2 separate regions of the Homo sapiens genome follow, and region 1 is linked to region 2. A link means that fine-mapping ties the variant in region 2 to the expression of a gene that starts in the linked region. Tissue or cell type: testis. Region 2 holds a variant in brackets; the other region holds the start of a gene. All regions are shown on one strand. Distances are from middle to middle.

What was found. PIP is the estimated chance that this variant, and not a neighbour inherited with it, causes the effect.
Region 1: it holds the start of ARHGEF38-IT1, and the variant in region 2 is the best candidate, but not a certain one, in a credible set for the expression of ARHGEF38-IT1 in testis (GTEx, PIP 0.57).

The regions. Positions count from the first base shown.
Region 1 is chr4:105,559,221-105,564,613 of GRCh38, forward strand. It overlaps ARHGEF38-IT1 (ARHGEF38 intronic transcript 1), which reads left to right and starts at 2,371. Exons shown (of 3, transcript NR_046840.1): 1 at 2,371-2,427; 2 at 4,082-4,145. The region is part of intron 1 of ARHGEF38 (Rho guanine nucleotide exchange factor 38); the gene reads left to right.
Region 2 is chr4:105,581,396-105,586,788 of GRCh38, forward strand. The region is part of intron 1 of ARHGEF38 (Rho guanine nucleotide exchange factor 38); the gene reads left to right. Among named protein-coding and RNA genes, the nearest start is that of ARHGEF38-IT1, 23 kb to the left of the region's middle. The variant A/T (reference allele first, on the strand shown) is at 3,100.

The sequences.
Region 1 (5,393 bases), 22 kb before region 2:
TATTTGGGAGTCCTACCTTCACTTCTAGACTGTTTCTGAGACTGTGGAATTTTCTGTTCAACAGGCCTCAGTACTGGCTCCAACATTTGCTTGGACCGCTTCTTATCCCATGCTCTCAAGGGCAGACTGTGGTTGCTGGTGTGCATGCTCTTAGGCCTAAGGCACAATTGATGATGGGGGTGTTTCTGGAGCTTGATCATGCTGGAGTGTTCAGATCATGTCTACCAGGTTCCTCTGGGTGGGAAAGCTGGTAGAGAGAAGAGTAGGGATTCAAGCCTCAAGATTAGGTAGGAGTGCGTGTGTCCCATGGTCCCCTGCCAAATTTTGGCATAAAACTCTGAGGGATATGAGAAATCTAAATTAGAAGTTGGCCTTTCAGATTGTTATAAAATATATTTATCAAGACAGAAGGAAATATCACATTTTATTTAATAGTTTGCCAGCTTCATTTATAACTTTTAAATATGTAGATCTGGTATGCTGGCCTCCATCTGTATCCTTGCTCCAGGTCCCACAAAGGAGGCAGCTATGTGTGGTTTTTGACTGTAATCTATTTCAGGATATAACCCTTCTTCTATACTAGGTTGTGAAAGTAAGAGGGAAGGGGAGGGAAGGAAGAGATTGAGTATTAGTGTTATGTTATCTGCTAGGAGCTATGCTAGCCAGATGCTGTCACACACACTGTTACTGAATCCCAACTTCTCTTCTGTTCAGTTCTGATTTTATCATTGAGAAAAATAGGTGGTAGGCCTTGGGTTTGAGATGTCACATGCTTGAAATATTTGCAAAATGGAATGAATTTAACTAGTTGACTCAGTAGGTATTTTATACATATGATTTACTAAGAAGTCAAAGCCATTTGATGGTTGCAGCACATGTTTTGTAATGTGATGACATTTCTCTGCTACCATAATAAAGCTTAACTTGCTGTTTTTCACTTTGGAATATATTTTCTTTCTTTTGACTTATAGTGGCATGTCCCTGCCAGACTGTCACTGTTTAATAAATACTTTTTTTGTTTAGTTGTCGGGGAACAAAATTACAAAGGTAGGTTAAGCAAAACTGTCTTATAGTAATAGCTTAATGATCTCCATTTCCTGCTTCATTGCGTATCTTGACACTGAAACTCATCTTTCTTTAATTTTATGCCTGTTGTCATTTATTTGCATCTCAATAAAACTTAATATATATCAGAATAACTGAGAGTCCTATTCTACAGCAATGAGAGGAGGGAATACATTTGCAAATGAAAAGAATGGAATTATGTGTGGGAAACAAGCAACTTTTTATCTGGATAGGTGATATTTCAGTAGAATTGTATGAAGTCAGCTTAAATTGTGAGTCATAACTTAAATGCAGCAGGAACACAGAGTGCTATGATTTAAGACTTTGTCCAAGGTTTTCTGAACAATGTTTTTCTTGATTAATGAATCAGAGAATAAATGAATAGTCTAAGATACCTGCACTGAAGCCCTCGATAGAGGATGCAATCTTAGACTGACATACAATTCTTACTTAAAGAAGAAAACTTAAAGGTCATGTCATCTAGCTACTACTCTAAGTATTGTGAGTCATTATAGCACTTCACAGAAACTGTTTTTCCTGAATGCTTCTTAATGTTAGGTCTCCAGTGTCACTACAAAAAGCCATCACAGATTTCTCCTTCTGTGTTTGTTGTGAAATGGTTGATGAAGACATTGTTTACCTCTCTCAGATTTTATTCAATGGAAAGCTGACTCTCCTTAAGAATAAAAACACATCCCCTCCCAGATAAAAACAAGCAATTTACTATATTTAGCTGCTAGGAGCTTAGGGTCAAATTTGTTTTTGTTCCCTGGCCTTTATATTAACTATTTTGTCTGTCTAAAAGTTTCTTTCCCATAGAGGCAGGGTGTGGTGGCTCATGCCTGTAATCCCAGCACTTTGGGTGGCCAAGGTGGGTCTATCGCTTGAGCCCAGGAGTTTGAGACCAGTCTGTGCAACATGGTGAGACCCTGTCTCTACTAAGAAAACAAAACAAAACAAAACAAAAAATTAGCTGGTTGGTGGTGCATGCCTGTAATCCCAGCTACTTGGGAGGCTGAGGCACAAGAATCACTCAAACCTGGGAGGCAGAAGTTACAGTAAGCTGAGATCATGCCACTGCACTCCAGCCTGGAGTCTCAAAAATAGAGTAGAATAATAGAATAGAATAGAATAGAATGGAATAGAATAGAATAGAATAGAATGGAATAGAATAGAATAGAATAGAATAGAATAGAATAGAATAGAATAGAATAGAATAGAATAGAATAGAATAGAATAGAATAGAATAGAATAGAAAAGTTTCTTTCCCCAGATCTCTGCAAGAGCAGATTTTTATCACTGAAGTCTCTGTTCGTCTTTTTTGGGAGTCCCTCCCTGACCATCCGACCTAAAGTGATGTAGGTAAGGGAATACCTTTCCTCTACCCTCTTAAATTCTGTGACTAGGACCTGTGAATTGTATAGACAAAAGACATACTAACAAAAGAAAAAGCATACACATTTTACTTGAGGTTAACATTTTTATGTGTCGTAGGAGGCTTTGTAGGAAGAAAGAAGTAAAAACCTCAAAGAAGCAGTTAGACCTAGGGGTTTACATAACATTTTAACAAAGGTCATAAATTGTGGAGATATGACAAAGCCAAAGTAAAAGAGTTTAGGGTTGGGGAAAGAAATTGTGGAAAAGTGACTAGGAAATACATGGGAGAAGCTAATGGAAGATAAGGGTTATTTTTGTAAGATTTGTTTGTGTAGATTCATCTCTGTGTCAACTCCCTGTCTCTGATGATGAGAATATTCCCTTCTTGGTGATACAGGGAGGGCACTTTTCTCATGGTAAATTTACACTCTGCTTTTAAGTAAAAAAGGAAAAGGCAGAGAGCCCTTCCTGCATCTGCTATTGAGCATCTCCAGCTCAAAATAATCAGTATCCCAAAGTGGCATATTTAGGGATGGTGTGTTCTGATCCCCCTCAGTGGCTTTCATACCATCTATTACTCTATGAAATTATACTACTTCATTCTATTTTTGGCTTTTGCTGTCATTTGAATATAATTCTCCTTGGGGAAAAAGACTTAGCATTTAAGCAATGCCTGGTATACAGTTATTCTGCTCAATGACTATTTATTGAATGACTTTAAAATATCCAGTGAATAATTACAACTATATTGATCCTTATGACATACTTGCTTTTACAATTCTGTCATTTTCACTTACCCACTATGTAATGGTAGTTAACTTTCAGTTAATTTCTTTACATTCTTTTTCTGTAAAGAAAGATTATAAATAAATAAATTTAATTAAAGAAGAGACTAGAAAGAGTTTCCTGGCCAAGAAAAATAGGATCTCTTTTTAAATGAATTTATTCAACAAATATTTGCTAGGTATTCGTATGTGCCAGGTATGACTAGGTCCTAAGAATGTTTTTTAAAATATCAGAAGCACACCCAGCCCACTGAGTGAGACAGGTTGTGAACAAATTATTGCAGTAATGTAACAAGGGCCTGAAGTATACTGCAAATTGGGTTTCCGACTTGCAAATTCTGAAATAGAGATTCGGGTGGAGGGGAATTATTAGGCAACATTCTGTGACCACCACCTGGGGAAGAAAAGGGAAGGACATAAGCCTGGGCACAGGGAGAGGCCGAGCTGTGATGTGGTCTCATTGGAAGCTTTAGCCAACTCTGAGGGAAGTTCTGAAGACAGATGATTTTTTGGAGTTGTCTCCAGTGTTGTGAAGGACCTGGGCCCTTGTATCACACTTTACGTTTGGGGATGTGGCTATCTTGGGAAAAGGCATGGCCTGAGAGGTGCTTTCATCTGAGATAATTCCTAAAGAGGGCATATCTGCTGGTTGCACTCCCGGCAGCTGAAATAATAATTTATCCCTTCCTTTAAGGGGAACGGGTGCTAACATGGCATCCACCACATATTAAGTGGTTATTATTATTAGAGACACAAATAAAGCAATATAGGAGCTATGATAAGAAAGAGCTTAATTGCACCTCTGAAATGCCAAAAGAAAATACACTGAAATCTGAATCTTGAAATCCAATTAGGACTTTTAGGGGCAGAAGCCATTCCAGGCAGAGGGATTATGCTGGTCCTCATACATGGAACAAGGTAATAATACTAATTTTTGTATTTGGGGATTTCTAAATGGAAGAGCAGGTACAAACACCAACTGAACATCTGTAGTAGGCACTTAGGTGCAGTACGTCATTTCATGCTCTTAGCAACTTTGCAAATAAGTTATTGCCATATATTTATAGATGATAAAACAGAGGTTAAGAGAGGTATAAGCATTCTCCCAGTGGTCACATAGCTATTAATAGCAACTGGTGAAGTCAGAGTTTTCCTGAGGTTTGCTTGGCTCCAAAGTCAGGGCTTTTTCAACCATCATGCAGTTTTCCTGTTCTAACCTTAGTTTTTAGTAGTAGTACCTGTTTTATGGTTTGCTCTTAAGAAATCAACTGATTTTAATAAACTTTTGAACAATACTCACAAGCATCAAGAGAACTGTAAGTTCTGCCAATACATTCATCGGCAATCTTGAAGTGAACAGTGACCAACAAGTATTTTTCAGTAGCTGTGTTATTTTATGCCTCTCAACAAAATGTTCTATGTGCTTGGAAATTAGAAAGATATGTACTTGCATTGAATAAGGTCCATACTTCACAGAAACACTAGAATATTCTGCTCTAAAAATACAAAACTGATTATCTGAATTATCTAGTCTTTGAAAACTCCTTGTCATCACTAACTACAGAGTACTTACCTGGATTAGGGTACTCAGTGAAAAACTGGGTCAGAATGTCAAACTACATGGCTCCTTTGCTTAACACTCCTCATTGCTTTTCATTTTTCTATAGCTAGCAGCAGTACCCAAAGAGGGGAATATATAAACCCCAGGAGATTTTACAGACAATCTATTGTGCAAAGAAAAAAATAGGTTTGTTTTTCAGTATTGCTCTTTGAAAATATTTATTGTTGTGCATGCTTCATAATATGTATGATACATTAATATGATACGTATATTAGAGGTGTATACACAGAACAGTTTAACTGACACAATAAAAACATTTGCAGTAAAATTCTGACACGCTACTACATGGATGATCATCAAAGATATTGTGCTAACTAAAATAAGCTAGTCACAAAAGGACAAACGCTATATGATTCTACTTATATGAGAGTAGTCAAATTCATAGGGACAAAAAGTAGAATGGTGGTTTCCAGGGGCTGGGGGAAGGAGGAAATGGGGAATTATTGTTTAATGGGTAGAGTTTCAATTTGGGAAGATGAAAAAGTTGTAATGATTGCATAATAATGTGAATGTATTTAATGATACTGAACTGTTTACTTAAAAAT
Region 2 (5,393 bases):
ACCCTCTAGACCTCCTAGTAAACATTAGTTGAACCTTCTTATTCAATCCTCAACATCTCCTAACCTCTCTCACATATTTTACATGTCTATTGCATTCTATAAAATTTTCTTGGCTTGTTCATTAATCTCTTTAACTTTGTATAATTTACTATTTAGTTCATTATACAACTCAACTATTTATTCAACTTAGCCATTTATTGATTAAACAAAATAATTAAATTTTAATTATTATGAGCTTTTATTTTAAGATTCTGTATTATCTTTTAAAATCCACTTGATCATTTTTATATTCTCTTGTTTCTTGCTTATAATTTCAAACCATTACTTGTTTTTTAAACCTATTAAGTACCCTTTTTATATCTCTAATAATTTCAGTAACTTAAGACTTTGTGGATATAATTATGCTATCAATTTTATTTTCTGCATCTGACTCATGGTATCGTGTTTCCGTGTGTGTTTTAGGATTTCTTAAAATCTCGTATTCCTATGGCCGGGTGTGGTGGCTCACGCTTGTAATCCCAGCACTTTGGGAGGCCGAGGTGGGTGGATCACGAGGTCAGGAGCTCGAGACCAGCCTGGCCAACCCAGTGAAACCCCGTCTCTACTAAAAATACAAAAAATTGGCTGGGTGTGGTGGCGGGCGCCTGTAATCCCAGCTACTCAGGAGGCTGAGGCAGGAGAATCACTTGAACCAAGGAGGTGGAGGTTACAGTGAGCCAAAATCATGCCACTGCACTCCAGCCTGGGCGACAGAGCTAGACTCCGTCTCAAAAAAAAAAAAAAAAATCTCGTATTCCTTGCAATGTAGCTGCAAGGAACAGTTGAAGCCTGACTTGAGTTTCTATTCAATTTCATTAAGCTTTGTTCTTAATTTCCTTTATTCTATTTTCTTTTGGCTTATTGTATTTTTTTTTTTTTACTTATTTAGTTAAGAGTCAAATCATTTTCACTCTTGCTTCTTTTCTTGTATATGAATTTAAGCCTATAAATTTTCTGTAAGCAGTGCTTTACCTACATTCCACATGTTTTAATTTGTAATATTTTTCTTATCCTTATAACAGATATCTTCTATTCACTTTAGTCATTTCTTCTGTGACCCATCAGTTATTTTGTAGGTTTTGGTTCTCTATTAATTCCAAAACAAATGAGTCCTAACATTTTATTTTTGTTATTTATTTCTACATTAATTTCATGGTAGTTGTGGTTCTCAATTTACTAATTCTTTGAAATGTTATAACTTAATTTATAATGTATTTCTTCAAGTGTCCTTAAAAATACTATGTAATCTCTAATTATTGGAGTAAATATTTTCTGTCCTAACAGTCTATCAGTTACTGACAGTTATGTTTAAAATATCACTATTAAGACTGATTTGTCAAATTCTACCTTCAACTCTTTCACTTTTTGCTTCACATGTTTTGAAATCATGTTATTTAGTACATACAGAATTAGAATTTTCATATCTTCCTAATGAATGGGACACTTTATCACTATATAGTGCCCACTTTTATTTTTGCCTTAAAGTCTATTTTATCTGTGTAAAATAGCTATATCTCACCCTTCCTTTAATTAGTATTTGCTCAGTATATATTTTTGTACTTTCATCTTCTTGTGTGCTTATGTTCTCTACTATAAATGGCATATAGTTGTTGTTTTTTGAATACAGTTTGATAATATGGTCACTTGAGTTATGATTACACATAGATTTGAATCGACTGCCTTATATTTGTTTTTCTCTTTCGGTTTTCTCCTTTCTTCATTTGAACTGCTTTCTCTCCTCTACTGGTTTTGAAATTTTACATGCTATTTTATTTTAATGGTTGGCCTTGAAATTTTAACATATATCCTTAATTTAAAAACATCTAAAGTTCATTAATGTCTTTAGCTTTTCTGCAATATCACAAAAATGTTTAAATGTTTAAAATACTTAGAAGTCTCCACAATCTCTCCCAAGCTGTCCTGTCCACCAAATCTCTTATCCTCTCCCCAGCGTCCTCCTACCTGGCCACACATTGCTCTGCTTCCTGTTCCTTAAATAGGCCATGCACACGCTCACCTTAAGGTTTTCCACTGACCAGTTCATCTGCTAAAAACCACCTCTCCCAGATATCTGCATGACTCTCTCACCTTTCAACTCTATTTCAGGCCTTTCCTGCCATCTTATTTAAAATTGCACACGTTTTAAGCTCTTCCTAGCAGCTTTCATAGCATTATTTTTCTCTATATCACTTATCACCTTTTAGTATACTAAATAACTTGTTTAAATTATTTATGTTCTTCTTCCCCAACTAGAAGTAAAGTTCCATAAGGAAAGGAATTTTTTTTTTATTGCTGTATCCCCAGAGCCTAAGATGATTTTGGGCTCATAGTAAGCCCTTACTATTTATTTGTTAAGCATTCAATAATTTCAGATCTCAAATCCATATGAGAGCCAGTTAGTGTCCTTGAATTGTTAAGGGATGCTATTTTTTTTTCTATTGATCACCACCAAGGCTGAGACAAATCATTTTATTGATGTCTCTTTCTTTGGAGCATTATTTTTACTTAGTGTGTTTCCTTTTCTGATCCTTTATCTGGATATGTTTCCTGAGTATGTTCCCTTTTCCCACTCTTGATTTAAAAATTGCCCAATAAATAAATATTTTTATCTATTTATGGTTCAGTTCATGAAAAACAAATAGGAGAATAGATACTGTGCAGACAACAGCAGTGTCTGACACAATTATGCTGTTGTTACAAAAAAGATCCCCACTATATACTGTTATAGTTGCAAAAGCAAGTTGCAGAAGAATATGTATATGAGCTTGTTACTGTTAAAAAATAAAACAAAAAACTGAACTTCTGTAAATATGTGTATTTGTATGTGCATGGAGATATTTTGAGAAGCCTATACACTACACTAGAATACAACCAATAATACAGTAAAAATAATATTACAATTAATAAATAGGGATTGCATCTAATAATAATAAAACATTTTCAAGATATCCAGTATAATGCCAGGCACTGTTACAAGTGTTTTACAGACATTAACTAATTTAATCTTCGAAATCACTTTATAAGGCTTTACTAACGTTATCCTTAACTTACAGATGAGAA[A/T]ATTGATACAGGAAGAGCTAAGTAACTTGTCTGAGGTAATAGATCTAATAAATGGTAGTGGTGGAGTTTGAACCCAGGCAGTCTGGCTCCCAAGGCTATGCACTTAAACCTCTACTATATCTACATCTCTCTCTCTATCTGTATCTATGTCTATCTATCTATAGCTATAGCTATTTCTATGTCTATCTATATATAACTTAGATAGATATTACAATTACATATTATTTTATAATTTACAAAGAAAGAAAGAAAGAAATTACCTCTCCTTAAATCCACCCCAAAATGGCAGTAGTAGTAGCAAAAGCAAGAAGAAAGGAAAAACAGGATAGGATAAATTCTAAGCAAAACGTGGCTATCAGTGAAGATTGTCTTCAGTCCTCCCCCAACACCCCTTTGCCTTTGGGTGCTGTTGCACTTCTCTAAGAGATCGAGGTTCTCCCCACGCATATACCCAAGCCAGATAAACTGCTCAGGATTCTAAACCCCAGCTTTGTTCTGACTTTCCTCCGAAAGCAGCATCCCTATTTTTTTTCCTCTTCCTCTTCCAACTGAACTAGCTGTCCACCCACTTTAGAGTCATGCATTTTTCTTGACAAGTTGGTAACCACAAAATAATGGGATAATTGTTTGCTCTAGATGGTGGAAGAGTTTGAGACTGTAGAGAAAGTAACCCTATTTTTCCCATTCCCACAGAAATAGTTAACATTTGTATTGTTTTAAAGATCTCAAGGAGCTTCCACATGGAGCTGCTCATTTAATTCAGTCTTCATGATCACACTGTGATGGTTTTCATGCATAGTTTACAGGTAAGGAAACCAAGGCTCTGTGAGGATAACTATTAGTTATTAGTCTACTGTGTTCTCACAGCTGAGTGGCAGAGCTGATCTCAAGTCAGATTATCCTTTTCCCAAACTGCAACAACCTCTTTTTATATAAACTTCCTTGGCCAGGAATCTCCACATATATTATTAATGAATTTTGTGGCTAGAATAGTAAAAATTCACATCACCACTGGAAAAATAAAGCTTGAGTGTGAAAGAAATACAGAGTGAAGTCAATTACATGGTACTGCTTTAATATACAGCTGCATATTTCTGTTATAGCAATCTGAATATCCTTTTAACCTTAGTTTCACTTTGGCTTTGACATTGTATTTTATTATATGCAAACTATTGGGAAACATTTATTCTTAAAACAATTTTTCCTTCTTTCCTAAATAGCCCCTCCGTTGCTTTTTTTTTTTTTTTTTTTTTTTGAGATGGAGTCTCCTTCTGTCACCCAGGCTGAAGTGCAATGGCACTATCTCGGCTCACTGCAATCTCCGCCTGGTGGGTTCAAGTGATTCTCCTGCCTTAGCCTCCCAAGTAGCTGGGATTACAGGCATGTGCCACCACACCCGGCTAATGTTGTATTTTTAGTAGAGATGGCGTTTCTCCATGTTGGTCAGGCCGGTATGAAACTCCTAACCTCAGGTGATCCACCCACCTCGGCCTCCCAAAGTGTTGGGATTACAGGCATGAGCCACTGCGCCAGGCCCCCTCGGTTGCTTCATCCAGAAATAAAAGACGGGCTATAGCTGACTGCTGATTTGGGCGATATGTGTTGGCAATATTGTTGAGTTCCAAATACTTTTATATATAAAAGCTAAGTATAACTAAAAGATAAAATGTTTAAATGCAGAGAAAGATCTTACAAAAACAAAATGTGTCCACAATGCATTGCAGAGTTTGTTGGTTTAAGAAATGCAAACATAGAAAGTGTTTAGAAACCTGACCATAAAATGATGCAAGTGAAGTTTTTGTTCCTACAATAAACTTGAGTCAAAAGAGCAAACAAAGATATCTCATAAGGTTGCTCAACTGTAAATTCTCTGAGAGATTTTTACACCTGAGGGAGAAGTTGAGTATTTTCACTGACACTTTATTTCACCCACCTTGCCCCCACAAATTTGTTCTCAACAAGTTGTTGAGCAGTATTGGAAAACCTAAGCATTTTTTAATTGACAAAATCTGATGTAGTACATTTTAAAGTGCAGCAACTGAAACGTCTGTGAAGCAGGTTAAGTTAACATTGTGATTGAGTCCTGGAATTTAGAACTAAAAGGAACCCAAATGCATGTTTTAGGGATATTCCTTTGTCGACGATCAGGAAAAACTTCCTTCTCCTTGCTAGGATCCCAAATAATTCATAGATTAATTTTATAAGGCATAGAAGGTTTAGAACCTGGAAAAGCAATGTCAGAGCAGTTTTTCATCAGCATCATTTTTATTTTCAAGGAAACATTAAGTGATAAT